Linked DNA regions of Homo sapiens: regions 1 and 2 are each linked to region 3. Evidence: fine-mapped expression QTL. A gene starts in region 3. Each other region holds a variant in brackets. All regions are shown on one strand. Distances are between the middles of the regions.

Region 1 (10,418 bases), 74 kb before region 3:
CAATGTAATGAATGTAATAGAATTCAAAAGTACAGTCAGTGTTTACTGTTTCATATATTCATTTGGTATATTTTATCAAATGTGTACATCTTATAAAATCTACATAGAAGACTATGCAGTTATATATTGAAGACATTTGGATATCCTACATAAAGTACTATGTGTTGTTCTTCCTACTTTCTTCCTATGTTCTTCCCTCATCAGGAGCATAAACAACTCCCAAAATGTGCACAAATTATCAATTATTTAGTGCTGTACTAAGACACAAAAAGATCCAGAAGCTTGACAGCTATACATGGGCATGCAGTATATTCACATCAGTATTCAAGTTGCAGCCCCTATTATAAATATTAATGTATTGCCAGTAATTATCCTTTAGACTTTCCAAAGTAAAAAATACCAGGTAGTTAATTTATAGACATACTACAGAAGGAATCAATATTTATAATAGTTAAGCTGCAGTGGAATGTGATATTATATCCATGTAAGCTTTAAGGAACCCCTTGTAAACTGAAATGGAATGACAAAAGTGGTAGCCTTTTCATTTCGTTAACATACCTATATATAGTCCTGCATCATTTCTCACTTTCTAGTGAGAAACACTGTAGTTGGGGTTTCTCAGACTCAACACTGTTGACATCTGAGGTTGGATAATTCTTTGTTGTGGTGGGCTGTTCTATGTATTGTAGGCTATTTAGAACATCCTTGGTTTATACCTCCTAAATACTAGTAGCAGCAATCTCCCTCAGTTGTGACAACCAGAAATGTCTCCACATATTGCCAAGTGCCCCCCTGGGGGTGGCAGGATTGCTCCTGGATAGCAATGATCGCCCTAGGTACTTGGCAGTTGATGATAACAGATTTTTTGATACTTTTGATAAAAGTCATTGTGGCACTACAAGAAGTATTACCAAATTAGCATTACCAAATACCTTTCTTTAATTCTTCAGATAAATTTCAGATTGATAGTATTAATACTTTGTTCCTGATTATTGTATTTCTAATAACAAATTTTATTATGAATCTGACGATTCTAGCCAGCTAAAATTACAGCCTGAGCAGCATTGACAGCTTAGGTTTTCACTGTCAGTGGGTTTTGCATGGGTTGGGATCAGAACATGTTGTGTGGTATGATCCTTTTCTAAATTTTTCTTACAAAAGTTGACCCAGAGGCCTCTCCCATACATAATCAGGTTAATGTTTCATTTTGATCAAGCAAACTCTGAGGAGATTAAATATTCATTGCAAAAGCCTGACCTCTATACACTTACTTTAGGCCTTCTCTAATTTGTTGTGTTCACTTCTTTCCTTCAGGCACAGGGGCAGAGCCAGGGTCAGCCATCCTCAAGTAGCTTAACAGGGGTTTCATCTTCCCAACCCATACAACATCCTCAGCAGGTGAGAACAATGCATTGCAACATTTTATGAATTAGCAGTGGCCAGAACACTATTTTAACTTTTGTGATTTGTTATATAAATGGCCTGCTAAGTTTTTGAAAGGAAAATTAAGAGGCATACCATGTCTTGTGTTCAGTAACAAAGAAAAAAAAGAGACTTTTCTGTGTTTCAGAAAAATCTCTTTTGTTTAATATACTTTTGAACAATTTAGTAGACATACATTATTACTGATATAATTATCTTTTTAAAAGAGGATTCTACACCTTTTTTTTGAGACAAAGTCTCACTCTGTCACCCAGGCTGGAGTGCAGTGGTGCAATCTTAGCTCACTGCAACCACCGCCTCCCAGGTTCAAGCAGTCCTCCTGCCTCAGCTTTCCACGTAGCTGGGACTACAGGTGCCTGCCACCACACTCAGCTAATTTTTGTATTTTTAGTAGAGACGGGGTTTCACCATGCTGGCCAGGCTGGTCTCAAACTCCTGACCTCAGGTAATCCACCCTCCTCGGCTTCCCAAAGTGCTGGGATTACAGGCATGCGCCACCTCACCCAGCCTGGATTCTACACATAATTTACGGTACAAAGAGTATGTCATTCCTTTTCTCTTTTTTTCCACTGCTTGCAGCAGTGATTTGTCATTACCTTCATTGTGCTTGCCTCTACTAATCCTGCACTTCTTTTTAATTATTTCTAATCTGTAGAATGATGTGTCAGATTTTACGCTAAGAAGCATCTAATGAAAACCTAAGAACAATTACTTCAAGAACATTTATTTATTTATTTATTTTTATTTATTTTGAGACAGCCTTGCTCTGTTGCCCAGGCTGGAGTGCAGTGGTGCAATCTTGGCTCACTGCAACTTCCATCTCCCAGGTTCAAGCTATTCTCACGCCTCAGCCGCCCGAGTAGCTGGGACTACAGGCGCGTGCCACTATGCCCAGCTAATTTTTGTATTACGTTCTACTTATGCCTGGCTAATTTAGTAGAGATGGCGTTTCACCATGTTGGCCAGGCTGGTCTTGAACTCCTGACCTCAAGTGATCCACCCGCTTTGGCCTCCCAAAGTGCTGGGAGCCACTGTGCCCAGCCAAAATATTTTAACTTTTGTTTTGGGGGGCTTGTTCCAGAAAGTTCAAGGAATTCAAGAGATTAGTGTCATCCTGATACATCCAACAGTAAAACTGGTAATTCTAAAATTAAATATTTATAGTGCATCACTGATATTAGTTAATAGTAATTATTTGCAAGGGAATAATGCATTTTTGGCATAATTGAATACTTATTAGCTATTCTACATAAAATTTGTAGCCACTATGTATGTAATGCAAACTTCCTAATGTTAGTTCCCCATGTGGGTTTTTTAATCAGCAAACTCTAAACTGGCTTCTGTTTCTATTAGTTTTTGGTTTTGAAACAAAGTTTTCGGTTCTTAATTACAAATGGCCCTTTTTCAGTCCAACATATGGTCATGTAGTCATTCGATACTGGTTTAAGATCAGGAGTTGCTTGTACAAGATGAAAATCACTTAAAGGCACTTTCTACAGAAACAGTTGATTAGTTTGTTTATACATGCATTCACTCCGTGAACTGAAGGACTGGGACTTATATGCTTTGTTTTGCACCTGTCCTTTCTTCCAAACAAGACTGGTTAAATTCAAGTAAACATATTTTTGCCAACCTTAACAAAATCTGTTTTATTCTATTAACAGTTCCTAATTAGAATGCAAATTACAAGTCACATAAAGCTGGTTGAGAATGGAAGTACTGAGTACTAATCTCCTAACTTGCTTATCTTTGGATGTAGACGAACACCAATGAACTGAGCAAATTGTATGTGCTCTGTTTTTTCTTTTCCAAAGGAATTGGTTATCTGTCTTGTATTTGGGGATATGTATGTATACTTACTATCAAATGAAGAAGATAATAAAATAATTCATTGAGTTTCATGTTAAGAAAGAGTGTGAGAAAAGAAGAGAGCAGTACCATAAATGTCAGATTAAAAGAATTAGGTAGCTACCTCTCCAGGAGAAAAAAATATGGCTAAATGCTATCTCTACAGCAGAAACAAAAATTAATTTTTGTTTCAGTGATGTTTTTGTTTTAGATACTTTTATAGCATGTGTTGTAGAATCACAAAATTGAGCCCTCGATATATATAGGAAGTGTATTCGGTCTAGAATAATTAACTTCTCCAAAGTCACTTAGATAATAAGGGAGCTACAAATTATAACCCAGAATTCAAGATTCCTAGAATAGTATTGTTTCTTCCATTTTAAATAAAGTTCTGCAGGGACTTAATGATTCTGCAAATGTACCTCAGAAGCTGTCTTTATTTGTTTTAATTATTGGAGTTCCACGTTTGAAAAAAGAAAGGTTGAAAACTTTTTGTACTATATGGATAGTCTATTTTTAGACATGATTTTTGTTTTACGTACTTTCAGGTCCCAATCCCACCTTAGAGAACCATATCTCTTGTTTTATTTTAGTGAGGAAAGAAATATACTTTTGCTAAAATTTACTTTATTTCATGCGTTTCTTGAACATAGTAAATGAGGAATTGCTTTTTTGTGTGTTTTTGTAGGGTCTCGTATAGTGATATACTAGATCTTAGCAAGGTACCAAAAATAGCTGCCTCCTGCTGAAAAGCTTTGTGACCACAAACAAAGTTGTGAACTTTGTCAGACACAGTGCCAGCTACTTGGAAGGCTGAGGCAGGAAGATCACTTGAGCCCAGGAGTTCAAGGCTACAGTGAACTATGATATTGCCACCATACTCCAGCCTGGGCAACAGAGCATGACTCATCTCAAAAAAAAAAAAGCACCGAAGTTGTGAACTACCTACCCTACTATCCATAAAGTCTGTTTGAACTGGTTTCATGAGGCAAGCTTGGGCAGAGCATGATGCTAAACTGTTAAGCTAGACCACCCCTGCCTGGCTGAAGTGCTGATTATTAGTCAGTGGGACTGCGCACAGCAGATCATCATGTACTTCTGGCATATCCAGAGGTGACACTTCTCCCCAGATGCTCTAAGAT[G/A]TAACATTAACCGTTAGCCATTGTAAACAACTGGTTTAGAGATCTCTTTAAGATGTTAATACAAGGGTCACTGTCATAGATGCCTCTCAGTTGTCTTAAGCAAAGAAATAATTTGTCCATAAAACTGCTCATTTTTGACAGTCCTTTCAGCTTTTTTTCCTAATTGAGTTCAGATACTGAAGGTCTACCGAGCTGGACCAGGTATGACTACTTTGAAAGAGTCTAAATAATATAGTAAATATATATGTAAATTTCTAAAAAACAAATAAGGATAATAGCTAATATTAAAGTGCTTTGTACATTGTACCTACATTCTCATTTAATCGTTTTAAGAACCCTATAAGTATAGATGCTATAATTATTTCCATTTTACTGATGGGAAAGCTGAGATCTGGAGAAGGTGAGTAGTTTACCCAAACTTACAGCTTATAAGAGGTAAAAACAGAATTTAAATCCAAATAATCTAATTCCACAGCTCACCATTTGACTACTACCCAATTATGTCCAAAAAAAGGGAAGAAATTAACATCTCTCCCAAGCAGGAAAGGGAATATCAGGAAGACTTTAGGAAAAAGGAGGCATTTGAAATGGACTTTGATTATAAGTTAGACTCAGATGTAGAAATAAAGAATATTCCAGGCCAGAAGATAAAAAAATTATACTGTGAGCAATGTGAAAGGCCCTAAGATAGAAAAATAGGGTACAAAAACAAATGTGCCTTTAGTTTGGTTTAACTAGAGCATAGATATGTGAAGGTATAAGTTCAGGAAAGAGTTGATAGAGTCTAAATTTTGATATGAGCATAATTTTGAATTAAGGAGGATGTATTGGGGGCTGGGAGCATATGATTACCATATGCCCAAAGATAACATGGGAATTCTTCCTCAAATTTATCCGTTAGAAAAGAGGGGAATAACCATGTATTCAGACCTTTATCGTACTCTCATATTACAGGGTTTTCACTGTCCTTTACTTTGAACAACAACAAACCAAAAAAGGTTAATGAAATAAAATGAAACAGGTGAGAACAAATGTGCCTGCAAAGACTTCAGCTCATGTAGTTAGAAATGTTCATTGAGAACATCAGACAGAATATTTTTAAGGAATAAACATAAATTTAGTCCTTATTCTCAGCAATATGACTTCACTATTCTGAGGACTGTATGTGATTTTAAACAACTGGCTTAAAGATCTCTTTAAGATGTCAATATAAGGGTTACATGAATAAAAACCTATAAGAGAAAGGAAAAAAAAATCTAGTTTTATTTTAATGTTATGTAAATAGGTGCTTTTCACTGCACATTTTACCTGAAGATACAACTTAGATGGAATGTGTTATGTTATGCCAGAAAACTGCAGGAGCGTTCATAATTTAGCTTCAGTGAAGGTAAAGATGCTGGTGTCTTTACCTATGTAGAGTTTGGGGGAGAGGGAGCAGTATTTCTGAATTAATATATTTAATATGCAATCTTATTTACGTGTGTAAATTAATGAGTTAGATAATTATAGATATCTCATTCACATTCCTTAAAGTTTAAATTTGTTCAAGTTGGCAAATAAAAAAGGTTTTCTGGTTTTTTAGTTCCTTTTTCTCAGGTGGGAAATTAACAAATTTGTCTTATATTCAGAGCACCTTTAGAATTGGCTACATGTGGTTTATCTTAGTTTGCAGAAAATAAATTTCATGTAATTCAGCAGCCATTTCTGCTTCTTTAAAAGTTAAAATAAGAATACATTATCAGAGGCCGGGGCGCGGTGGCTCACGCCTGTAATCCTAGCACTTTGGGAGGCCGAGGTGCACGGATCACAAGGTCAGGAGATCAAGACCATCCTGGCTAACATGGTGAAAACCCGTCTCTACTAAAAACACAAAAAATTAGCCGGGCGTGGTGGCAGGCGCCTGTAGTCCCAGCTGCTCAGGAGGCTGAGGCAGGAGAATGGCATGAACCTGGGAGGCGGAACTTGCAGTGAGCCAAGATCGCGCCACTGCACTCCAGCCTGGGCAACGGAGCGAGACTCCGTGTCAAAAAAAAAGAATACATTATCAGAAATAATTAAATAGGAATAAACCAAACATGACTGCTGTTGCCATTATATTTTAGCATTCTTTTGGTGATTTTAATTGACATAAATATAAGAAGAGCAAAAATATTATTTGTAGATTATCACCTAACAAAATCTAAGACACTTATCAAGGTGGCAAGATACATAATAAATGTACAAATAAATAGCTTATCTTTATACCAGCAGTAACCAATTAGTCGTATGGGTATACCAGCACATACGTAAAAGGCTGTTGGTTGCAGCATTATTTTAAGTAGCAAAAATGAAACAACCAAAGTGTTTATCATTAGGAGACTGATGCCATTTAGAAATTAAAGTAGTATGCTATAGAACACTATGTATAGGAAAGGCATGTTTTTGTTTTGTTTATTTTAACAAAAAAAGAAAACTATGTGAAAATGGCCACTTACGCATAGAAAAAAATCCATGAAGGTTATGCACCAAACGACTAATAGTGGTTACCTCTGGAGAATAGGATTAGGGGTATTTTCATTAACTTTATAATATGATGTACTAGTTAAAATTTTTATTACAAGCAGATGTTGTATTAAAGAAAAAATATAAATTAGGTATTAGAAGATCTTGAAAGTCAGCCCTAAACTTCATTTTTTTTTTTTTTTTTTTTTTTTTTTGGAGACAGAGTTTCGATCTTGTTGCCCATGCTGGAGTGCAATGGTGCAATCTCGGCTCACTGCAACCTCCGCCTCCCAGGTTCAAGCAATTTTCCTGCCTCAGCCTCCTGAGTAGCTGGGATTATAGATATGTGCCACCACGCCCGGCTAATTTTTTGCAATTTTAGTAGCGATGGGGTTTCTCCATGTTGGTCAGGCTGGTCTTGAACTCTGGACCGCAGGTGATCTGCCCACCTCAGCCTCCCAAAGTGCTGGGATTACAGGCGTGAGCCACCGCGCCCAGCCTCAAGTTTTTATTTGTTAGACAGAAGGGGCAGTACTCTAGGGGTCATAGTCCTGTTTTGTTTGGTTTTGTTTGCTTGATTTATTACAGAATTTAGTATTCGAGTACAGTTATGTTCCATGCATTAAATTAGGTGTATAATTACGCACCATGCATTAAATTATACTTGAGTCCCTAGTACATAGTAGATTCCCAGGTGTCATTCCCTTTGCCCCACTTTGAGTTAAAAAATAATGTCCTTGTTTCAAAAAGAGAAACTTCATTTTTTTAATAAAATAAGCAATCTAAGGCATTAACAGCTAGTAAATATTAAAGCTAAAATTTGAAAATGTCTGTTATTCCAAATCCAGTGCTTTCCTCCCTATTTTGTAGCTATAATCAAAGCTATTCTTCAAGCATATTAATTATACAGTTGATAAAATAGGGTAAGGAAAAAAGATTAAAGGAAGCTATTGGATCTATCTGATATAGGTGCCAAAGAGAGAGCTGATGCCAAGAGATAGGGAAAAGGGAATGGCAGGGATGGGATGGGGAAAGGAACTGTCTGGATATGTTATGTAAATGTCTTTGTAAAGACCTATTGTTGGGGTGAGGGAGATAATTGGGTGAAGAGCCAATGGTAACTTGAGTATTAAAAGATTGGTTAATTTTTCCTGGTGGCACCATCACAAAGAACATCAGAGGGAAAACAAATATATAATGGAAATTGATGAATTTGGGTTTGTGCATGTCTTGATTACTAAAATCATCATTATTTACAGACACTGAAGGCTTTAGGTAAACATGCTTCCTTAGAAACATGCTGTTATTGATTTGAAATAAAACTGAATCATTGTATTTTATTCTTAGCAGCAGGGAATACAGCAGACAGCCCCTCCTCAACAGACAGTGCAGTATTCACTTTCACAGACATCAACCTCCAGTGAGGCCACTACTGCACAGCCAGTGAGTCAGCCTCAAGCTCCACAAGTCTTGCCTCAAGTATCAGCTGGAAAACAGGTAAACTTTTTTTTTTTTTTTAAACAGGTAAACTCTTAATTTCTGAAAGGGTGCTAAAAGGGATTTCCATGTAACTTGTCCTTTCATGTGGATAGACTTCTACCTTTTCTTCTAAGGGTAACCAACCCTTGAAGTAGGTTAATCTCATTGCAGAAATGAAGTGAAGATCACCTCATTGGTGCATATGCATTATTTAATGTAAATGGGTACGTTACTGACAGCAGTGACAATCCAAAGTTTCACTTCTAGTCTTACCAGTCCAAAATTGATGTAACAGGTATTAGAAATAACAGGTTAAATAAAGGTGCTCTGGTAACTGAACCTATGACATTCCCTAGAATTGTGTCAGCTATGTCTGATATTCTAGGTTTGAAACTATGCTTTATTTTCATGTAGATTTCTGCACTGTTTACTGTGTGGAATGTTTTTTTTTCTTAAGTAGTCCTCCTAATCACTTGAGAAGTACCCTGTAGAAGGTATGCTTTTCTGAATGACCTTTTTTCAACTTTATTTTTGAGTACTGTTGTGCATGTATGTGCACAGTGTATTGTTACCCTAATATTTCATCACATCTGAGATGCTATCAACTTTAAAATGTACCATATTTTATGTACCACATTATCAGTTATAAAGTAGATCCCAATTTCTCACATGTTAAAATGATCAGGTAGTGGAGAGGGATGATTGCATCCTAGAATGAGTGAAATATGTGAATTATACCAATTTTTATTGAGCCATGTTGGACTTAAGAATTTTAGAAATAATACGAATGAAATCTTAATTCCACTGGGAAGGAATTCATTTGAATTTCAGTAACTACTGTAACAGCAGTCGTAACTTTAGTGATAGCATTATGGTATATAAAATATATTCCAATAAAGCTGTTAAAAAAAAAAGCCAACCCCTTGTCTATGGAAGGGTCCTCTTCTATTGCCAAATGCTGAAGCATTAGCAAATATTTCTATGACAAAAGGTGTAGAACAGTAATAGTCTATTTAGCCTCTTTCTCTCCTGCTCTCCTTTCCATATTCTTATGTGGCATATTAACTTAACACTAATGTATGCAGGGTTTTGTTGGTTTGGTGTTTTTTTTTTTGTTTGTTTTTTCCTTCTTTTTGGCTAATACATAAATCTTGCTTTTGGCAGCCTTGCTTTTTTTTTTTTTTTTTTTTTTTTAAGCCTGTCTGTTTTGTTTTTCTTTACCTTCCCAGCTTCCAGTTTCCCAGCCAGTACCAACTATCCAAGGCGAACCTCAGATCCCAGTTGCGACACAACCCTCGGTTGTTCCAGTCCACTCTGGTGCTCATTTCCTTCCAGTGGGACAGCCGCTCCCTACTCCCTTGCTCCCTCAGTACCCTGTCTCTCAGATTCCCATATCAACTCCTCATGTGTCTACGGCTCAGACAGGTTTCTCATCCCTTCCCATCACAATGGCAGCTGGCATTACTCAGCCTCTGCTCACGTTGGCTTCATCTGCTACAACAGCTGCGATCCCGGGGGTATCAACTGTGGTTCCTAGTCAGCTTCCAACCCTTCTGCAGCCTGTGACTCAGCTGCCAAGTCAGGTTCACCCACAGCTCCTACAACCAGCAGTTCAGTCCATGGGAATACCAGCTAACCTTGGACAAGCTGCTGAGGTTCCACTTTCCTCTGGAGATGTTCTGTACCAGGTATTGTGTTAGTTAGCAAAAGAGGGCACCACAGAGTTTGATCCTAGTAGATCATCAGGAACATGGAAATCTAATAGTTGAGTGTCAGAATAACTAGCAATAACATGTCAACTAGAGAAGCAAAATAGTAAAATTCTGAGAAAGGATTGGATAATGATGTTCAGTGATTCCTGATCCATTTTTCTCAAGACACTTCTTCAGAGAAAAATGGTTCTCTCAGTATTCACTGTAAGCTGATTGAATGCTAGATGTGGTTAATAGTACACCTGGCAACTTTTACATATATGGGTAGAATAAATAGAATAGCCAACATGGTATCAACAAAAAGCTTCGGGGT
Region 2 (10,418 bases), 56 kb before region 3:
CCTATTTGTCTTTGACTTAGTAACACCTTTCTTTTAAAATGTTATAACCAATGACCCAGTTCCTACTTAAGTAAGAAGCTTCATAGCTCTTTTGTTTGTAATGTTGCTTCCGGTTATCCAAAAACACTTGATACTAATTTTTTTTTTATATCTTATGAAGGAAGAAAACAGCAAAGCAAACATTTTGTCAGACCCATATAGCTCCCTTTATCACTCACACTTCTGTAGAATAGCGAAATTGCGTATATAATCAAAATTAACTTTGAGAGTGCCCTAGAAAGGAGAAGCACAATATGGCAACTGAGAAACTTTTTCCGCGAGTCCAGAGCAACCAGTCTCTTCTTGAATGTTGATCATTTCTTTCACTAGCCACCTAATGAAGGAATTAGCTTACTTATAGGTAGGTATAGGGGTGATGTTTCATGAAAACTATGTGTGCTGTCTCTTTTAAAATAAAAGCCACCGAGCTCAGTGAGATGCTAACATTATGAGATCACTCATGGAGGAACTGAGACCAGCCTCATGAACTTGAGATTCCCATCTCACACAGTTCTGCTCACTTGAGTGCAGTGGTGGACAGAATTACCTGTAATATTTATTATTTCTCTTTCCCACCGCAGTCCACCGCCAACACATTTGTTGAATTTCCATAAGAAAAGTACTAATTGTGAATCTGTTGTGACCAGGAAAAATCTTCTGACATGAGACAAGCCAGTAAACTTTTAAACTAAATTAGGAATTTATTTTTGAATCATATATAAGAAATAAGAAAAACATGGTAAATTGCTTACTTGAGAAGCTGAGTTGGAATTTATCCCTATTTCTTTGGTCCCAATGTACAGGGGAACACTATTTGAGGAACTTGCCACAATGAAGTAAAAACCCCAACAGAGAAAGCACTCCATCAGCCACCACATTTGGGGGAAAGTGCATTGTGAAAGTCCGTAAATCAGGAGTTAGAAAATTAGTTTTAAACTTATTTTCTCATTTAAAAACATGGATTCAGATTTCTAAGGGAGTATAAAGTGTGACAAAAAATAGCAAGTGAGACATGTGGAGGGGTAAGGGTAAATAGCTAGTGCCTAGATAGAGGGAAAGGCCTAAGCAAAGACTGTGCAAGAATAGATTGATAGAAGCCAAGACAGATGTAGGATTAGACTGTGGAAGGGTAGAAGGAAGCTGTGTGCTTGCGGTGGATGGAATGGTTAACAGGATGGAATACCCAGACCTCCTTGCCACCATCTGTAGGGAAGAAGTATACATGTAAGAAAGAGGAAAATAATACCCTGTGATAGTGACAGAATATGTTAATGCCATCTTTTATTCATAGGGGCACCTTCCCAGAAAGATGTATAAAACTGAGAAAGAAAAGAGGGAACATGAGATACAGTGAATCTACCAGTAGATCTTTGTACATTTTTCACAATATATTTTAAAGGTCGCACAAATAAATAACTCTTTCTACCGTTTTGAGTAACATCAAACATAGAATGTAATAAGACTTCTCTTAAACTGCAAAAACATGAACTACTCTGAGCCTTGAGAGTCTGACATACAATCTTGAGAAACTGGCAAAATAATCAAAGCAGTACACTAAATTTGAGTATAGTTTTGTATGTTCCATAAAGACAAATGTTATGTTGTGCCAATATAAAGCATAAAACAGTGTGTCCTATCTAAATTGGCTATATATCGTGACTCTGAAGGTGCCACGGAACTGTATTTACTGTGATTGTTTTCATTCAGTCCCAGCAACCTCTAGAGGATCTTGATGCTCAATTGAGAAGAACACTTAGTCCAGAGATGATCACAGTGACTTCTGCGGTTGGTGTAAGTTTTGAAAATCTTGATAAAATCTCCTCATAACCCTAATATATTATATGCCTGGGACACAAACTGTAACCTAAACCATTATTAATACCTTTAACATGTATTCAGAGTTCCTGCTTATTCTAGCCAAAAGAAATGAGACTGATTAATGAAAGATTCATGCTGACTCAGGAGTATCACTATGGAAAAGATTTTATTTGAAAGGTGCTTTTTTAGTTGTACGTCTGGTCAGATTGTGCCATAGATCAATTCTATGGATTTCGTATTTTTGTTTCAGAGGAGGCTAAATTTTGTCAGATAAAATAATGTTTTGGGCTAGGTGCAGTGGCTCACGCCTGTAATCCCAGCACTTTGGGAGGCCGAGGCGGGCGGATCACAAGGTCAGGAGATCGAGACCGTCCTGGCTAACACGGTGAAACCCCATCTCTAGTAAAAATACAAAAAATTATCCAGGTGTGGTGGTGCACGCCTGTAGTCCCAGCTACTCGGGAGGCTGAGGCAGGACAATGGCGTAAAACCCAGGAGGCAGAGCTTGCAGTGAGCCGAGATTGCACCACTGCAGTCCAGCCTGTGTGACAGAGCGAGACTCCATCTCAAAAATAATAATAATGTTTTGATTGAAACTGTTTTTCTGTGAATATCCAAGTTATACCCTTAAGCATCCTATGAGAAAAATTAAGAAAGCAATCAAGAATTAAGAGTAGAAATTCATTCTTTTAAAATGTACCTTTTTTTTTTTTTTTTTTGAGACAGGAGTCTTGCGCTGTTACCCAGGCTGTAGTGCAGTGGCACGATCTTGGCTCACTGCAACCATCACCTCCCAGGTTCAAGTGATTCTTCTACCTCAGCCTCCCGAGTAGCTGGGATTACAGGTGCCCGCCACCACACCCGGCTAATTTTTGTGTTTTTATTAGAGGCGGGGTTTCGCCATGTTGGCCAGGCCGGTCTCGAACTCCTGACCTCAAATGATCTGCCCACCTTGACCTCCCAAAATGCTGGGATTACAGGTGTGAGCCACCATGCCTGGCCCTAAAAGGTGCCTTTCTTTACATCAGACTTTTAGACTTTAAAAGAAAAAGGAAAGAAGATAAAATGTTCTCAGACATAAGTGTTTCATCACATATACTGTCTTTCTGCCCTTTTACAAAGACCATAGGAAAGGCAACGAGGCAAAAGTTTGAGTGACTGAAGCTAAAGATTTGTGGTGTCTGTCTGTGTGTGTTTTACAGCCTGTGTCCATGGCGGCTCCAACAGCAATCACAGAAGCAGGAACACAGCCTCAGAAGGGTGGTGAGAAACATCCTTCCTCCTTTTATATTACTAATTCCAGCCCTACCCGTAGTTGATTCAGGAGGTTTACCGTTTCAAAGACACATTTCCACGTATTTGATAACTGAGGAGCATTGGTAGTAATATCTAAAGCTTGAAAGATTAGCAAATTAATAAATCTGTTCCGTTATTATTTGTCAGAGGAAAGGTTATACAGGAGGTAATGATAAGACCCTTCATTATTAGCTATGCCAGATCCTTGCTATTAGAGATTAGGAAATTAAAGCATACTGTATTTAGAAAAGTAAATTTACTGATAACCTCTTAGCTTTTGTGACACTGGATATATAGGGATAGAAGCTTGAATAGTCTGGACATATATTTGTATTGAAATACAAATGTAAGATTTCAGTTAATCAATTTAAACATTTTTATTTTCAAGGCAATTATATTCTCAATTGGCTCTCATTTTAAAAGTGATTTGCAAATCATTAGAATGGTCTAGAAATGGAAAAATGAAAGGGGAATGTAGATTATCAAAATATGTAGAGTATCAAGTATGTACAATGAAAATAATAAAGATTACTACCAATAAAAAGAGAATGTAGAATATGAAAAAGGTAGCTTTTCAAATCATTGGAAGATGGAATATTTCTTTTTTTTTGAAGTGGAGTTTGCTCTTGTTGCCCAGGCTGGAGTGCAGTGGCATCATCTCGACTCATTGCAACCTCCACCTCCCAGGTTCAAGCGATTTTCCTGCCTCAGCCTCCCAAGTATCTGGGATTACAGGCATGCACCACCACACCTGGATAATTTTGTATTTTTAGTAGAGACAGGGTTTCTCCCTGTTGGTCAGGCTGGTCGCAAACTCCTGACCTCAGGTGATCTGCCCGCCTCGGCCTCCCAGAGTGCTGGGATTACAGGCGTGAGCCACCGCGCCTGGCTGAAAGATGGAATATTTTTATAAGTGGTTTAGAACAACTTGAAAGCCATCTGGAAAAAAGCAAAGGTGGATCACTAGCCTAGACATAAGTAAAGTCCAAGTGGACCAAAGATGAAATATTATATCATAAAATAGTACTATATGAAATCATAAGGGGATTTTTTTTCTTTTTTTTTTTTTTTTTAGTTTTTTAATTTATTAGTAATAACAACTTGAGAATTGCATAGTATTAAGGCATCAGTTCTTGGAGTGTGGGCTGAGGACCCTTTTGGGGTGCCTATGAGGGCAACACTATTTTACAGTAAAACTAAGACATTATTTTCCTTTTTCACTATAGACAAAAATTTAGCCAGCTGTGGTGGTGTATGCCTGTAGTCCTAGCTAATCGGGAGGCTGAGACGAGGATTGCCTGAGCCCAGGAGTTCCAGGCTACAGTGAGCTATGGTTTTGCCACTGCACTCCATCCTAGGTGGCAGAGTGAGACCCTGTCTCAAAAAAAAAATCATGCATGAACAAAAAAATGTATAGGTCAATGGATTTTAATGGCCACAGTTATGAATATCTTATTACTATTATTTCAGATCCCACATTATAACTAACTTTTTTTTTTTTTTGTGGCTTGGAAATCTTTTTTTTTTTTAATTTTATTATTATTATACTTTTAAGTTTTAGGGTACATGTGCACAACGTGCAGGTTTGTTACATATGTATACATGTGCCATGTTGGTGTGCTGCACCCATTAACTCGTCATTTAGCATTAGGTATATCTCCTAATGCCATCCCTCCCCCGTCCCAAGGGGATTTTTTTCAACTATCTAGAGCAGGGTTCACAAACTCTTTTTCTGTAAAGGGCGAGATGGTACAAATTTTAGGCTTTCTAGACCATATAGTCTCTTGCAACTTACTCAGATCTCACAAGTAGCAATGGACAATACATAAATAAATGAGTTTGTGTTTCAATAGAATTTATTTACAAAAACAGGCAGTAGGCTGAATTTGGTCCATGGATCAGTTTGGAGTTCTCAGATAAGTTTAATAGAGGTGTTAAGTTCAATGTCTAATCCAGAAGCAAGTAGTAATAGATATAAAATTTTCTTCATGGAAGAAAAGTGCCACCGATTGCAAATATAAATGAAAAACTGGGGAAATATATATATTTGTGGGAGGGGGAGGGGTATGTGTAGTCATATCACAAAAAGAACTCGTTTTGCTAATACAAAGAGTTCCTAAAATTCAACATGAACCAAAAAACAATCAAAAGATAACAGAAAAGGAAACTTAGACATGAAAATATTTAATGTCCGTAATGATAGAAACACAAAGTAAGGCTACAAGTGATAGCAATTCCCACCTCTCATTGGTAAATTCAGGGGTCTAATAGCCACCAGTGACTTGGTACAGCCTCTGGGGGGATCA[G/A]TTTATAATAGTGATGTCTACTACAGTCTTAAATGGAAATAATTCAGCACTTTCATTGTGGTATATTTATTGTACAGATCTATAAGAGAATATTTATTTCTAAAATAGCAAGAAATTCTGGGCCGGGCATGGTGGCTCACACCTCTAATCCCAGCACTTTGGGAGGCCAAAGCAGGTGGATTGCTTGAGCCCAGGATTTCGAGACCAGCCTGGGCAATATAGTGAGACCCCCATCTCTGCAAGAAATTTTAAAAATTAGCCGGATGTGGTGGTGTGCACCTGTTGTTCTAGCTTCTCAGGAGGCTGAGGAGGAAGGATCACCTGAGCCTGGGAGGTTGAGATTGTGGTGAGCTGTGATGGCATCACTGTACTCCAGCCTGGGTGACAGAGTGAGACCCTGTCTCAGGGAAAAAAGAAAAGAAATTCTGAATAATTTAAATGCCCATCAGTAGAAGCCTGATTAAATATGAAATATATATATGGTATATACATAGGGTATGACACTATGCAATCATTAAAAAGAATGAGGCATTGATATGGAATGATCTCAAAGATATAGAATTACATGAAAACATAAAAATCGCTCAATGTTCTACTAGCTGTATAAAATAAATATATCTCTAGAAAGAAACTCAAAGCATTGTTCCCCGGAAAGGTTTTTAAATTGCCCAAAACTAAATAATTCTGAGGGCTGGGTGCAGTGGCTCACGCCTGTAATCCCAGCACTTTGGGAGGCTGAGGCGGGCAGATCACGAGGTCAGGAGATCGAGACCATCCTGACTAAGACGGTGAAACCCCGTCTCTACTAAAAATACAAAAAATTAGTCGGGTGTGGTGGTGGGCGCCTGTGGTCCCAGCTACTCGAGAGGCTGAGGCAGGAGAATGGCATGAACCTGGGAGGTGTAGCTTGCAGTGAGCCAAGATCGCACCACTGCACTGCAACCTGGGCAACAGAGTGAGACTCCATCTCAAATAATAATAATAATAATAATAATTCTGAGAACTGTACTATCCTATTCTAGAATTTGCCAGTGTTACATTGAGAAAATAAAATTAGCTGGTTTTCATTTAACAATGGATCTTGGCTGGACATGGTGATTCACACCTGTAATCCCAGCACTTTGGGAGGCTGAGGCAGGCATATTACCTGAGGTCAGGAGTTCAAGACCAGCCTGGACAACGTGGTGAAACTCCGTCTCTACTAAAAATATAAAAATTAGCCGGGTGTGGTGGCACACGCCTGTAATCCCAGCTACTCAGGAGGCTGAGGCAGGAGGATCACCTGAACCCAGTAGGTGGAGGTTGCAATGAGCTGAGATCGCACCACTGCACTCCAGCCTGGCCAACAGAGCGAAACTCCATCTCAATAAAATAAAGATGGGTCCTTAATGTCCTCAGTAAAATCTCATCCTTCATTTCACTTACTTATATATCTGAATTAAAGAATGAGTAATTGAGTTTTTAAAGCCTGTTAACCTTTGTTTTTATAGTATATGTTAATGTTGTAGTTGGTATCTAGTAGTAGAGCAAACAATAACTCTTTTCCCCTGTTGGACAGAGCCTCATGGAGGGAGGAGATAAGGAAGTTCTCTTTGCCTCTAACAGCTTTCCTCATGTGTAGTTTGATTTTGCTGTATTTCTAGCTAAAGGGAAAAGAAGTTAACTGGAAGGAGACACTTATGTTTTCCTCATCCATGTATTTGTTTCAGTTTCTCAAGTCAAAGAAGGCCCTGTCCTAGCAACTAGTTCAGGAGCTGGTGTTTTTAAGATGGGACGATTTCAGGTAAGACAGTCACTTTGTGTTGCCTTGATTCCTTCCTTTGGAGGAGTTGTCTATATAATAAAATTACTGCCTACCTATTTGGGACACAATTGCCAGTCTAGTGATTTCTGTCACATAGTACTTTATAGCTCTTTTTAGCATTTTCCTAATAAAAGTAATATATACTAAATAAAATATAGAAATACTTAGAACAGTAGAGACACGGTAGATAGTCGTACTATCTATCCACCCACCTCCCAAGATTACTTTTTGGGGTGTATTTCCTTCCACTCCTTGTTTTCTGTACAAGTGTTTATCTAAAATTAACTACCATTTCTCCTGTTCCAAATGTTACAGCTTTTTTTCCCATCCAGTAATTGGTTTACCTAACCAGTCTCTATCATCATTTCTCATTTTTCCAACATAATAAGTTAAGTAACAGCAAACATCTTTGTGTATAAAAATGTTTTCCACGTTTAAAATAATTGTCCTAAGATTAATTCTTTAAATTAAAACACATGATACCATATCACTTTATTTTACCAGGTTGTCCAACATGTGAGCATTTTCTGGCTGGGGAGAGTAGGTGATATTTTTCTCATTTGTAAACAGGTCCTGAACCTTTATAGGTGGGCTGAGTTTGTATTTGTAAATACATGGACAAACCAGAACAAGGATCTGGATCCTCTTTTTTAGTTACCAGTTAGTTGTGTTGATTCTTGAGGCATACCAGGCATTTAACATTTACCTTGTAGTTTTTCTTATTCACAGGCAACCCTAAAAATTCTACAATGCCTTGCTAATTTATTTTATTTATTTACTTTTATTTTATTTTTTTATTTTTATCTATTTATTTATTTTTGAGACGGAGTCTCACTCTGTCACCCAGGCTGGAATGCAGTGGCATGATCTCAGCCCACTGCAGCCTCTGCCTCCCGGGTTTAAGTGATTCTCCTGCCTCAGCCTCCCAAGTAGCTGGGATTACAGGCACACGCTACCATGCCTGGCTAATTTTTGTATTTTTAGTAGAGACAGGGTTTCACCACGTTGGCCAGGCTGATCTGAAACTCCTGACCTCAAGTGATCCACCTGCTTCAGCCTCCCAAAATGGTGGGCTTACAGGCATGAGCCACTATGCCTGGCCCTGACCTTTTGTTATGTATATGTTGACTAAGACATAAATCTGAATTCTGTGTATGACATCAAATACGAAAGTAAATTATTTACTTTATAAGCGTAGCCAGCCACACAGAATCTGCATCTCAGTACCCATGTGTTCTCTATGATGGTATTCAATTTTTCTTCCTAGTCAAAAGTGGAGGCGCTATGTAAAGAGACAATCAGCCTACTCTTTGACAGGGAAATAAAGTGATTCTTTTTTTCCTTTTTTAAATTGTCTGTGATAGAAATTGGATATTGAGAACTTAAGTTTTTAATCTTTGTCCTTTTTTATCAGGTTTCTGTTGCAGCAGACGGTGCCCAGAAAGAGGGTAAAAATAAGTCAGAAGATGCAAAGTCTGTTCATTTTGAATCCAGCACCTCAGAGTCCTCAGTGCTATCAAGTAGTAGTCCAGAGAGTACCTTGGTGAAACCAGAGCCGAATGGCATAACCATCCCTGGTATCTCTTCAGATGTGCCAGAGAGTGCCCACAAAACTACTGCCTCAGAGGCAAAGTCAGACACTGGGCAGCCTACCAAGGTTGGACGTTTTCAGGTGACAACTACAGCAAACAAAGTGGGTCGTTTCTCTGTATCAAAAACTGAGGACAAGATCACTGACACAAAGAAAGAAGGACCAGTGGCATCTCCTCCTTTTATGGATTTGGAACAAGCTGTTCTTCCTGCTGTGATACCAAAGAAAGAGAAGCCTGAACTGTCAGAGCCTTCACATCTAAATGGGCCGTCTTCTGACCCGGAGGCCGCTTTTTTAAGTAGGGATGTGGATGATGGTTCCGGTAGTCCACACTCGCCCCATCAGCTGAGCTCAAAGAGCCTTCCTAGCCAGAATCTAAGTCAAAGCCTTAGTAATTCATTTAACTCCTCTTACATGAGTAGCGACAATGAGTCAGATATCGAAGATGAAGACTTAAAGTTAGAGCTGCGACGACTACGAGATAAGTAAGTATATTTTCTCTTGTGAAAGAATGTCAGATAAGGTTTTCAGACCTAGATCCCAGGGCCAAGATTAATAATATTTTTCGCCACAATATGCTAATGTCTCATTTCTTTTAAAGAGACAGTGCCACAGAAGCCCCACCCCATACCTCCCCACCACACACACACACACACACACACACACACACACACACACACACACACACACACGATTCCCAACCACTGACTCACAGGCACAGGCAGCTTCTCTTGCACTCATACAGACCCATAGCATTTCTAGTTCTAGAACTTCTTCATTGTTACTATATTATTACTGTATTATTGTTACTGTATTGTATTATTATTTTTATTAATAGCATATTGTATCACTATTAACTGCTCTTTATTTATTAGTCCACTAAATGAATCTGGCACTGGGATGTATGATTATTTGGCACGTTTTGTTTGGCAGATTGGGTCAGAGTAGCAAATTCAGCTATTGTGTGCGTGGCCTCAAAAGTCAGGAAATGTTTTTCTCCTAAAACATTATCAACCATTTGTTGTTGGCTAGGAGCTTGTTGGAACATGGCTTGGGTAATGCAGGCCAGCAAGGTGAGTTGACAAACTAGAATCTCGTGGTAGTACATTTGGGGAAAAGGTTCATTAGTAACTACTACATACTTGAAAGCAGGTTTAGGAATATGCTGTTAATTCTTGTCTGAATGAAGAGGATTATGGTATTTTGAATTATGTTTGGTTATCTTTCACAGACATCTCAAAGAGATTCAGGACCTGCAGAGTCGCCAGAAGCATGAAATTGAATCTTTGTATACCAAACTGGGCAAGGTGCCCCCTGCTGTTATTATTCCCCCAGCTGCTCCCCTTTCAGGGAGAAGACGACGACCCACTAAAAGCAAAGGCAGCAAATCTAGTCGAAGCAGTTCCTTGGGGAATAAAAGCCCCCAGCTTTCAGGTAAAAAGCCCTGGACTAGGTCAGCCACAGCTGTCCTATCTTTTGTTTCTGTCTCCAGCTGTATGTGACCTGCTGAACATTTGTTGTTTTTGTTAAATTTCAAAGGAATTTGGCTCTCCTGATATTTTTG
Region 3 (10,418 bases):
TAGTTCTTTATTTATCTTGAATATCAGTCTTTTGTCAAATAGGTCCCTGTGTTTCCCCATTCATTTTCTTAGAGTAGTCTGTGATTACATTTTGATGTAATCAATCATATTTATCTTTGTGTGTGTGGTTTTTTTTTTGGGTTTTTTTTGCTTTTTTAAGTGACTCTGGCATCCTGAGCCCTAAGAAACCTTTGCACACACTCAGGTCATGAAGATATTCTTCTCATCTTCTTCCAGAAGCCTCACGGTTTTCTAATTTTGAAAATAGGTCTGGGCGGGGCCCGCTGGGTGCAGTTGCTCACACCTGTAATCCCAGCACTTTGGGAGGCTGAGGCAGGCGGATTGCATGAGGTGAGGAGTTCAAGACCAGCCTGGCCAACATCATGAAACTCCATCTCTACAAAAAATACAAAAATTAGCTGGGCCTGGTGGAATGTTCCCGTAGTCCTAGCTACTCAGGGGGCTGAGGTGGAAGGCTTGCTTCAGCCTGGAAGGTAGAGGCTGCAGTGAGAAGAGATCACCCCACTGCACTCCAGCCTGGGTGACAGAACGAGACTGTCTCAAAAAAAAAGAAAGAAAGAAATTAAGTAGCCAGGAGTGGTGGCTCACGCCTGTAATCCCAGCACTTGAGGCTGAAGTGGAAGGATCGCTTGAGGCTCAGGAGTTCAAGACAAGCCTAGGGAACATGGCTGTCTCTACAAGCAGCAAAACGTTAGTCGGGCATGGTGGAGCATGCCGGCAGTCCCAGCTACTCAGGAAGCTGTGGTGGGAGGATCACTTGAGCGGGGGCGAGGAAGGGGTCAAGGCTGCAGTGAGCCATGATCATACCACTACACTCCAGCCTGGGCAACAGAGGAAGACCCTGTCTCAAAAAAGAAAGAAAGAAATTAAATATGTATCTGTCATATGATCCCAAAATTCTGATAGGTGTTTTCCCAGAGGAAATAAAAACATGGTAAAAAAAAAAAAAAAAAAAACTCAGGGGTAGAAGGGAGAGAGCCTGGACTAGGATAGTGGCTATGGCAAGAAATCATGAATTCAAGATATTAAAAAGGTAAAGACTGGCAAAGATGTTTTATTCTTCTCCATTTCCTTATCACCTAAAAGCATTTTTCTTTCTTTTTTTTTTTTTTTGAGGAGTCTCACACTGTTGCCCAAGCTGCAGTGCAATGGCACAATCTCGGCTCACAAAACCATTTCTTATTATATGTGGAGGGCTGAAGAAGCATGTCAGGTGGACTCTGGATATACAGATCAAGAGGGAGATGTGACAAGGTGATGGGTGAGATTCTGACTGTGAAGGTCAAGAACGGCTTGATGAACAAGACTGGAGCAAGTTTCTTTTATTTTCATTTATGAACACAGTACTATAATGTTCATGAAACTTTAAAAAAATTAGCAAAAGTAGAAAAAAAGTGGCCAGGCACGGTGGCTCACATCTGTAATCTCAGCACTTTGGAAGGCCAATGCAGACAGATCACCTGAGGTCAGGAGTTCAAGACCAGCCCGGCTAACATGATGAAACCTCTTCTCTACTAAAGATACAAAAATTAGCTGGGCATGGTGGCAGGTGCCTGTAATCTCAGCTCCTCAGGAGGCTAAGGCACAAGAATCGCTTGAATCCAGGAGGCGAAGGTTGCAGTGAGCCAAGATCGCACCACTGCACTCTAGCCTGAGCAAGAGTGAGACTCTGTCTCAAAAAAAAAAAGTAGAAAAAAAATTTTTAATTGAAATCTCAAAATGTCATTACCTCTAAAGCCTTATGCAGCTCACCACACTCTGAAGTATGTCTTTTTTTTTTTGAGGGGGAGACACTCTGTTGCCCAGGCTGGAGTACAGTGGCGCAATCTCAGCTCACTGCAACCTCCACCTCCCAGGTTCAAGTGATTCTGGTGCCTCAGCCTCCTGAGTAGCTGGAACTACAGGCATGCGCGACCACACCCAGCTAATTTTCTGTACTTTTAGTAGAGGCAGGGGTTTCACCATGTTGGCCAGGCTGGTCTCGAACTCCTGACCTCAGGTGATCTGCCCACCTCGGCCTCCCAAAATGCTGGGATTACAGGCATAAGCCACCACACCTGGCCTGAAGTAAGTCTTAAAATTTGTGGGAACCCAGTAATCCCAGCACTTTGGGAGGCCGAGGCAGGCAGATCATGAGGTCAGGAGTTCGAGACCAGCCCGGCCAACATGGTGAAACTCCGTCTCTACTAAAAATACAAAAATTAGCTGGGCACGGTGGCGGGTACCTGTAATCCCAGCTACTCGGGAGGTTGAGGCAGGAGAATCGCTTGAACCTGGGAGACGGAGGTTGCAGTGAGCCGAGATCACGCCACCGCACTCCAGCCTGGGCGACAAGAGTGAAACTCCGTCTCAAAAAAAACAAAAAAACACGGTGGGAACATAGGATTAATTCCCTCACACTGATCATTTCTCTGCACTCCCACACTCAGCCATTAGAGAACTGCGGGGCCATACACTAATCACTGAATCCCCAACACTCAGCACAGTCCCCACTCAGCACATAGTATGAAGAGCATTTTAGCCTTATTTTAGCTTCTCTCCACATCAAAACTGCCAGTTCAATATTAAAAATGAGTGCCTTGAGTGAAGAAATGCTAAAAGCTGCAGAGATGGAAAAATATCCACTAGGCTTTCTGCCCTTGAAGCACTACTGAGACAGTCAGTTCTCATTATTCAGGGTAGTTATGTCCTGTAAAGCCATCATGAACACTGAACTAGCAAATACTGAGCCACTGCTCCCAGGGGAAATACAGGGTTACTCAACAGGCCAATACATAACCTTGTTTTATGTGTGCTTCTGTTTAAAGATATCTTATTTAATATATATTGTTGATGCAGTAACATGAACTCACAGCCAACAACAAAAGTGATGCCTGAACAAAGCTAATCTAAAAGCTTATCTTTTCTCTATAAGATATATCACAGCCTTCAACTTGGAAATGCTAGACAGCACTTCTATTCTTGGAGGCCCCTATAAACAGCAAAATCACCAAAAGCACAAAAATACAAAAAAACATGGCACTACGTATACAGCCAAAATAACACTTATGAACAGTTTTAGAGCTGAAACAGGAAGGCAGAGTGTCACCTTATTTGAACATAGCTGGGAAAGCATACAGTGGGTGACTCAAAATTTTTCACAACTAGTCTCTCCCACAGCTAGCTCAGTTACATTTTTCATACACTCATCTCCAACTACACCGTTTATACTACAAGATAACACGTTTTGGTGTACATTACACAACAGCAATCTCTGACGGTTTCTGCCTCCCTGAGAAGACCAGCACACAAACATTTCTCTGCTTGATACCACGATAATTAACGGCCTGGTAAGTGGTGAACTGAGAATAGAACACTTTAAAAAACACTCCCAGAGGGGCGCAGTGGCTCACGCCTGTAATCCCAACACTTTGGGAGGCCAAGGCGGGAGGATCACCTGAGGTAGGGAGTTCGAGACCAGCGTAACCAACATGGAGAAACCCCTTCTCTACTAAAAATACAAAATTAGCCGGGTGTGGTGGTGCACACCTGTAATCCCAGCTACTCGGGAGGCTGAGGCAGGAGAATCGCTTGAATCCAGGAGGCAGAAGTGGCAGTGAGTCAAGATCTCGCCACTGCAGTCCAGCCTGGGCAACAAGAGCGAAACTCTGTCCCCCCAAAAAAACAACAGACAAACAAAAAAACAAAACTCCCGCCCAGGTGTGGTGGCTCACACCTGTAATCCCAGCACTTTGGGAGGCCGAGGCGGGTGGATCACCTGAGGTCAGGAGTTTGAGACCAGCATTGCCAACACGGTGAAACCCTGTCTCTACTAAAAATACCAAAAATTAGCCTGGCATAGTGGCATGCGCCTGTAAGCCCAGTTACCGAGGAGGCTGAGAGAAACTCTGTCCCCCCAAAAAACAACAGACAAACAAAAAAACAAAACTCCCACCCAGGCGCGGTGGCTCACACCTGTAATCCCAGCACTTTGGGAGGCCGAGATGGGTGGATCACCTGAGGTCAGGAGTTCGAGACCAGCATGGCCAACATGGTGAAACCCTGTCTCTACTAAAAATACCAAAAATTAGCCGGGCATAGTGGCATGCGCCTGTAAGCCCAGTTACCGAGGAGGCTGAGATAGGAGAAGCGCTTGAACCCAGGAGGTGAGGTTGCAGTGAGCCCAGATACGCCATTGCACTCCACCCTGGGCAACAAGAGTGAAACTTCATCTCAAAAAAAAAAAAAAAACAAAAAAAAAACTGCCCTAAACGATACCAGACCTGAGGCCACTGAATTACCTGACCCAACCCAAGAGTTAAATGCTAGTTTCCAAAAACTTAAGTTTTAAATGTCTGTGCCTCAGACTGCGAGTTCTGTGGAGGACTAGACCTAGAAAGCCTAGAAAATCACCAGTATCCATCAAAAATGGAGAAACAAAATGTGGTATATCCACACAATAAATAATTCAGTTATTTAAAAAATGAAGTTGATACATGCTACATACAACATAGATGGACTTTGAATCATGAAGTGAAATAAACCAAACACAAAAGAACAAATATTGTATAATACAGTACTGAGAATGGGTAAATTCATAGATTAGTGCTGCTGGGAGTAGGAGGAAATAATGGGTGTCTGCTAATGGTTTTAAGGTTTCTTTTAGGGATGATAAAAATGTTCTGGAATTAGATAATAGTGGTGATTGCACAACCTTGTGAATATATTAAAACCACTGAATTGCACACTTTAAAAGGGTGAATTTAGACTGGGTGTGGTGGCTCACACCTGTAATCCCTGAACTTTGGAAGGGCGAGGAGTTCGAGACCAGCCTAACCAACATGGTGAAAAATACAAAGTAGCTGGGTGTGGTGGTATGCGCCTGTAATTCCAGCTACTTGAGAGGCTGAAGCAAAGAATCGCTTGAACCCAGGAGGCGGACGTTGCAGTGAGCCGAGACGGCGCCACTGTACTCCAGCCTGGGCAACAGAGCGAGACTATGTCTCCACTTTTTTTTAAAAAAGGGAGTGAATTTAATTGTACGTGAATTATAACTTTTTTTTTTTTGGATGGATTCTCGCTCTGTCCCCCAGGCTGGAGTGCAGTGGTGCGATGTCGGCTTACCGGCACACCTGCCTACTGGGTTCAAGCGATTCTCATGCCTCCGCCTCCCGAGTAGCGGGGATTACAGGCGCCCGCCACCAGGCCTGCCTAGTTTTGTATTTTTAGTAGAGACGGGGTTTCGCTATGTTAGCCAGGCTGGCGTAGAACTCCTGGCCTCAAGCGATCCTCCCGCATCGGCCTTCCAAAGTTCTGGGATTACAGGTGTGAGACGCCGCGCCAGACCTCTATCTCAATGTTATAACAAGGCTCAATACTCAGCTAAAGTGAGCGTCAAATTTTTATTTTTATTTTTTCCCCCGTGACAGGGTCTCGCTCTGTCGCCCGGGACGGAGTGTCGTGGTACGGGTGCGATCTCGGCTCACTGCAGGCTTGACCTCCAGGGAACATGGGGGCATGCCGCCACCATGCCCGGCGTCAAATTCCTTTTAAATCAATCATTTCTTCCCAGCGTCCCCCGCTCCCTGCAACTCAACTTCGTTTAGCTATTAACACAAACTTCAGATTCCCCACGCCTGTCTGCAGGCAGCATCTCCAAGGAAGCGCCACCACGGACACCTGGCTGTCCGCACCGCGGTGGGGTCCCGGCGCGTTGGTGCCAAGTTTCCTGTACCCCGCCTTCCTACCCACCTCTCGGGAGGCCCGGATACTGAGCCCCTCACTGCACTGGTGAACTAGAACAGGCCTCTGGACTCAGCATCTCTACGCTGAGACCTCAGGATCAGGTCCACCGCAGCCCCAGGTTCTCGACCCGGAAGCTGAGCCTTCCCACGCTCCACACCCACGGCTAGAACCACCCCGGGGGAAGCCGCTCTCCTCCCCCACTTACGCGCCTCGGGCAGCGCGCGGTGCACACAGGGAGCTCGATCTAGGCTATGGACAAGGGGAAGAGATCTTAGATGGAGGCCGCGCAGAGGAGAATGGGAAGGGTGCGCGAGCGTCTCTGGGAAGAAGGTCCGAACCCACGCCCAGCGCCGGAGGGGGAAAAAAAAAAACACAGACCAGAGAAGGAACCGTAAATCAAGTCGGAGGGGAAAAGAGCCGCAAAGCCTTCTGCGGCAGCCGTAAAGCAACCTGGAGGCGCGGTGCTGGCTTTTACGTTCTGAGCCGCTCGCCCTGCCGCTTCCCTGCGCGCCCTCTGCCTCCTACTTCCCGCCAGCTTCCCTCGGTCCGCGGCCGTCGGATCTCTGCTGCCCCCTGGTGGGCCTGGCGGTTTCGTCAGGCCTTCAGCGGCTAGTTAGGCCCGGGTGGTTCACACTTCACATGCCCAGTGCCCATTAGGATGCGGGGCCCGCCCACCCATGCACAATTGGGAAAATCTGAGGATGAATGGTTGTCAGAGACCTTCCCAGATTCCGCCCGGGCCGAGGCAGCGGTGGACCTGGTGGTTCTCGCGGCCTCTCACCACCGCCGCGCACATCCAGTCGTCACCGGATGGCGCCTTCGGTTAGCGACGACCGCAGGGAAATGGAGAAGTGCGGCTTGGGGGGCGAAGTCCCCTCTAGAATGTCCCCTGGGGCCGGGCGTGGTGGCTCAGGCCTGTAATCCCACCACTTTGGGACGCCGAGGCGGGCTGATCACGAGGTCAGGAGTTCGAGACCAGCCTGGGCAACATGGCGAAACCCTGTCTCTACTAAAAATACAAAAAATTAGCCGGGCGTGGTGGCGGGCGCCTGTAGTCCCAGCTACTCGGGAGGCTGAGGTAGGAGAATGGCGTGAACCCCGGGGGACGGAGCCTGCAGTGAGCCGAGATCGCCCCACTGCACTCCAGCCTGGGCGACAGAGCGAGGCTCCGTCTCAAAAAAAAAAAAAAAAGTTTTTGTAGCGACAGGGTCTTGCTATGTTGCCCAGGCTGGTCTTGAACTCCTCGCCTCAAGTGATCCTCTTGCCTCAGCCTCCCAAAGTGCTAGGATTACAGGTATGAGCCACTGCACCTAGCCCACTTATCATTCTTTTTGTGGCGAGATATTTTCAACTTACTCTCTTAGAAATTTTGAAATATACAATAAATTATTATTAACTATAGTCACTATGCTGTGCAATAAATCTCAAAATTGTATTCCTCCTGTTTAACTGTTAACTTTGTACCCTGAGACCAACATCTTCATCTCCCCATTATCTCCCCCAGCCCCTTATTCCCCAGCCTCTGGGGAATTTTTAGTAGAGACAGGGTTTCTCCATGTTGGTCAGGCTGGTCTCGAACTCCCAACCTCAGGTGATCTGCTCACCTCAGCCTCCCAAAGTGCTGGGATTACAGGTGTGAGCCACTGTGCCCAGCCAATATTGAGCATTTTTATGAACCTGTTGATCATTTGTATGTCATCTTTTGATAAATGATTTTTTTTTTAAAGAGTCAGGGTCTCAAGCTATCAAGCTGTTGCCCAGACTGTACTGCAGTGCTGCAATCATGGCTCACTGCAACCTCTAACTCCTGGGCTCAAGTGATCCTCCCACCTCAGCTTCCCAGGTAGCTGGGACTACAAGCATATGTCACCACACCTGGCTAATCTAAAATTTTTTTGTAGAGACAAGGTCTTTCTATGTTGTCCAGGCTTTTCACAACTCCTGGCCTCAAGCAATTCTCCTGTCTCAGCCTTCCAAAGCACTGGGATTACAGGTGTAAACCAGTGCACCTGGTGCCCTTTGCCCCCTTTTTAGTCGTGTGATCTGATTTTGCTATGAGTTGTTTGCTTTCTTCACATATTTAGAATAGGATAGTAACCCCTTATTGGATATATGGTTTGCAAATATTTTCTCTCACTCTGTTGTTTTCTTTGTTGTGTCCTTTCATTTCTGATTTTGGTAATTTGTGTCCTCTCCTTTTTTCACTAGTCCAGCTAGATGTTTATTAATTTTACCTGTCTTTTCAAAGAACCAGCTCATGGTTTTATTAATTACTACAATTGTTTTTCCATTTGTTTGTTTCACTGATTTTCATTGTTATCTTCATCACTTCCTTTCTTCTGCTCACTTTAGGTTTACTTTACTTTTCTTTCTTTTTGTTTCTTATGATTTTAACCTTTTTTTGTTTTAAGTAAAGGCATTTAAACTATTAAACTATAAATTTTCCTCTAAGAACTCCTTTAGCTGAATTTTATAAATTCTGAAACATAATTTTTGGGGTAAATGTATTTTAAAGTTACCTACCTGCATGTTATTGTATATATTATATTGTTTTCTTTTTTTTTATGAAAAACTTTTTTTTCTAAGAGACAGCACCTCACTCTGCTGCCCAGGCTATGGTGCAGTGGCACGGTCATAGCTCGCTATAACCTCAAATGCCTGGGCTCAAGTGATCCTCCTGCTTCAGTCTCCTAAGTAGCTAGGATTACAGAGGCTACATGCCCAGCTAAGTAAAAAAACATTTTTTTGGTGGAGGCAGGGTCTTGCTATGTTGCTCAGGCTGGTCTTGAACTCCTAGCCTCAAGCAATTCTCCCACCTTGGCCTCCCAAAGTGCTGGAACTGCAGGTGCATGACACTATGCCTGGCTAATTAAAAAAATTTTTTTTAGAGAGGGGTTCTTACTATGTTTCTCAGGCTTGTCTTAAACTCCAGGGCTCAAGCAATCCTCCTGCCTCAGCCTCCTGAGTAGCTGGGACTACAGGTGCTCACCACCATGCTCAGCTCTAAAAACTACATTTTAAAAATAGTTCCTGCTATTCTTTGTTGTGGGTTGAATTGTGTTCCTCAAAAAGACAGGTAGAAATTATAACCTCCAGTACTTGTGAATGTGACCTTAATTAGAGAGGGGTCTTTGTAGATGTAATCAAGTAGGATGAGGTCATACTCAATTCAGGATAGACCCTCTTCAATATAATTGCTGTTATAAGAAAACAGGCTGGGTTCGGTGCCTCACACCTCCCAACACTTTGGGAGGTCAAGACGAGAGGATCGCCTTGACCAGCCTGGCCAGTTCGAGATCAGCCTGGCCAACACGGTAAAACCCCGTCTCTACTAAAAATACAAAAATTAGCTGGGCATGGTGGTGGGTGCCTGTAATCCCAGCTACTTGGGAGGCTGAGGCAGGAGAATTGCTTGAACCTGGAAGGTGGAGTTTGCAGTGAGCCGAGATATAGTCATTGCACTTGAGCCTGGGCGACAAGAACAAAACTCTGTCTCAAAAGAAAGGGAACGGAAGAGAAGGGAAGGGAGGGGAAGGGGAGGGGAGGGGAGGGGAAGGGGGAAGGGAAAAGGGGAAGGGGAAGGGAGGGGAGGGGGGAGAGGGGGAGGGGAGGGGGAGGGAGGGAAGGGAGACGCCCGGGCCAGGTGGCTCACACCTGTAATCCCAGCACTTTGGGAGGGGGGCGGATCACTTGAGGTCAGGAGTTTGAGACCACCCTGGCCAGCATGTTGAAACCCCGTCTTTACTAAAAATACAAACATTAGCTGGGGATGGTGGCACATACCTTTAATCTCAGCTACTCGGGAGGCTGAGGCAAGAGAATTGTTTGAACCCGGAAGTGGAGGTTGCAGTGAGCCAAGATTGTGCCATTGCACTCCAGCCTGAGCGACAGAGTGAGACTCAGTCTCAAAAAAAATAAAAATAAAAATAAGAAAACAGAGACAAAGACAGAAGGAAGGCAGCCCTCTGAAGATGGAGGCAGAGATTGCAGTCATTATGCCAGAAGCCAAAGAACATGAGGCCACCGGAAACTGGAAGAGGCAAGGAAGTATCCTCCCCTGCTGTGAGAGCAAGCTGTCATTACTTAGTCAAATAAAGTGTATGTCTACGACCCAGTGATTCCACTCCTGTGTACAAAAAGTCCTCATACAATTTACGAAGGGACATACATGAACATATCCACTGTAGTATTATTTACTTCATAACATGGCCGTGCCAAGTTCTTTAATCTGGGACTTAGAGCCTCAAGAACTGAGAGAAGCTAAATTTCTGATGTTTTAAGCCACCCAGTTGTGGTAATTTGTTACAATGGCTTTAGGAAACTAACACAATGTGATTTCTAATCCATCGTGCCTGCCTGCCACAGCATTTCCCATGGTGTACATCCACCATATTTCGCCCATCTACCTTCCCCACTGTGAACATCATAAATAATACTACAGTGAACATATTCCTACATGTTCCTTTATAAACTGTGTGAGAGCGTTCCGTACACACAGCAGTGGAACCGTTGGGTGACAGACGTCTATTTTATTTGCCTGAGTAATGACAGCTTGCTCTCCACCGCCCTTGCATGAGGGTTCCTGTATGTCCACACCCCTGCCAATTCTTGACATCATGCTGATTCACAACTTTCGGCAGTGTAATGAGTGTGAAATGTTATCTTTTTTAAAA

The links. PIP is the estimated chance that this variant, and not a neighbour inherited with it, causes the effect.
Region 1: its variant is fine-mapped to the expression of RAD52 in whole blood (TOPMed, PIP above 0.99). The same link has a PIP of 0.9 or more in lymphoblastoid cells, testis and tibial nerve.
Region 2: its variant is fine-mapped to the expression of RAD52 in whole blood (INTERVAL, PIP above 0.99).

What each region holds. Positions count from the first base shown.
Region 1 is chr12:869,951-880,368 of GRCh38, forward strand. WNK1 (WNK lysine deficient protein kinase 1) reads left to right here. Exons shown (of 28, transcript NM_018979.4): 9 at 1,315-1,398; 10 at 8,262-8,411; 11 at 9,623-10,081. Among named protein-coding and RNA genes, the nearest start is that of RAD52, 75 kb to the right of the region's middle. The variant G/A (reference allele first, on the strand shown) is at 4,434.
Region 2 is chr12:887,394-897,811 of GRCh38, forward strand. It overlaps WNK1 (WNK lysine deficient protein kinase 1), which reads left to right. Exons shown (of 28, transcript NM_018979.4): 21 at 1,747-1,830; 22 at 3,060-3,120; 23 at 7,169-7,242; 24 at 8,678-9,339; 25 at 10,086-10,288. Among named protein-coding and RNA genes, the nearest start is that of RAD52, 57 kb to the right of the region's middle. The variant G/A (reference allele first, on the strand shown) is at 5,460.
Region 3 is chr12:943,652-954,069 of GRCh38, forward strand. RAD52 (RAD52 DNA repair protein) reads right to left here and starts at 6,043. Exons shown (of 12, transcript NM_134424.4): 1 at 5,951-6,043. RefSeq lists enhancers at 5,215-5,873, 5,366-5,445, 5,874-6,532, 5,996-6,265.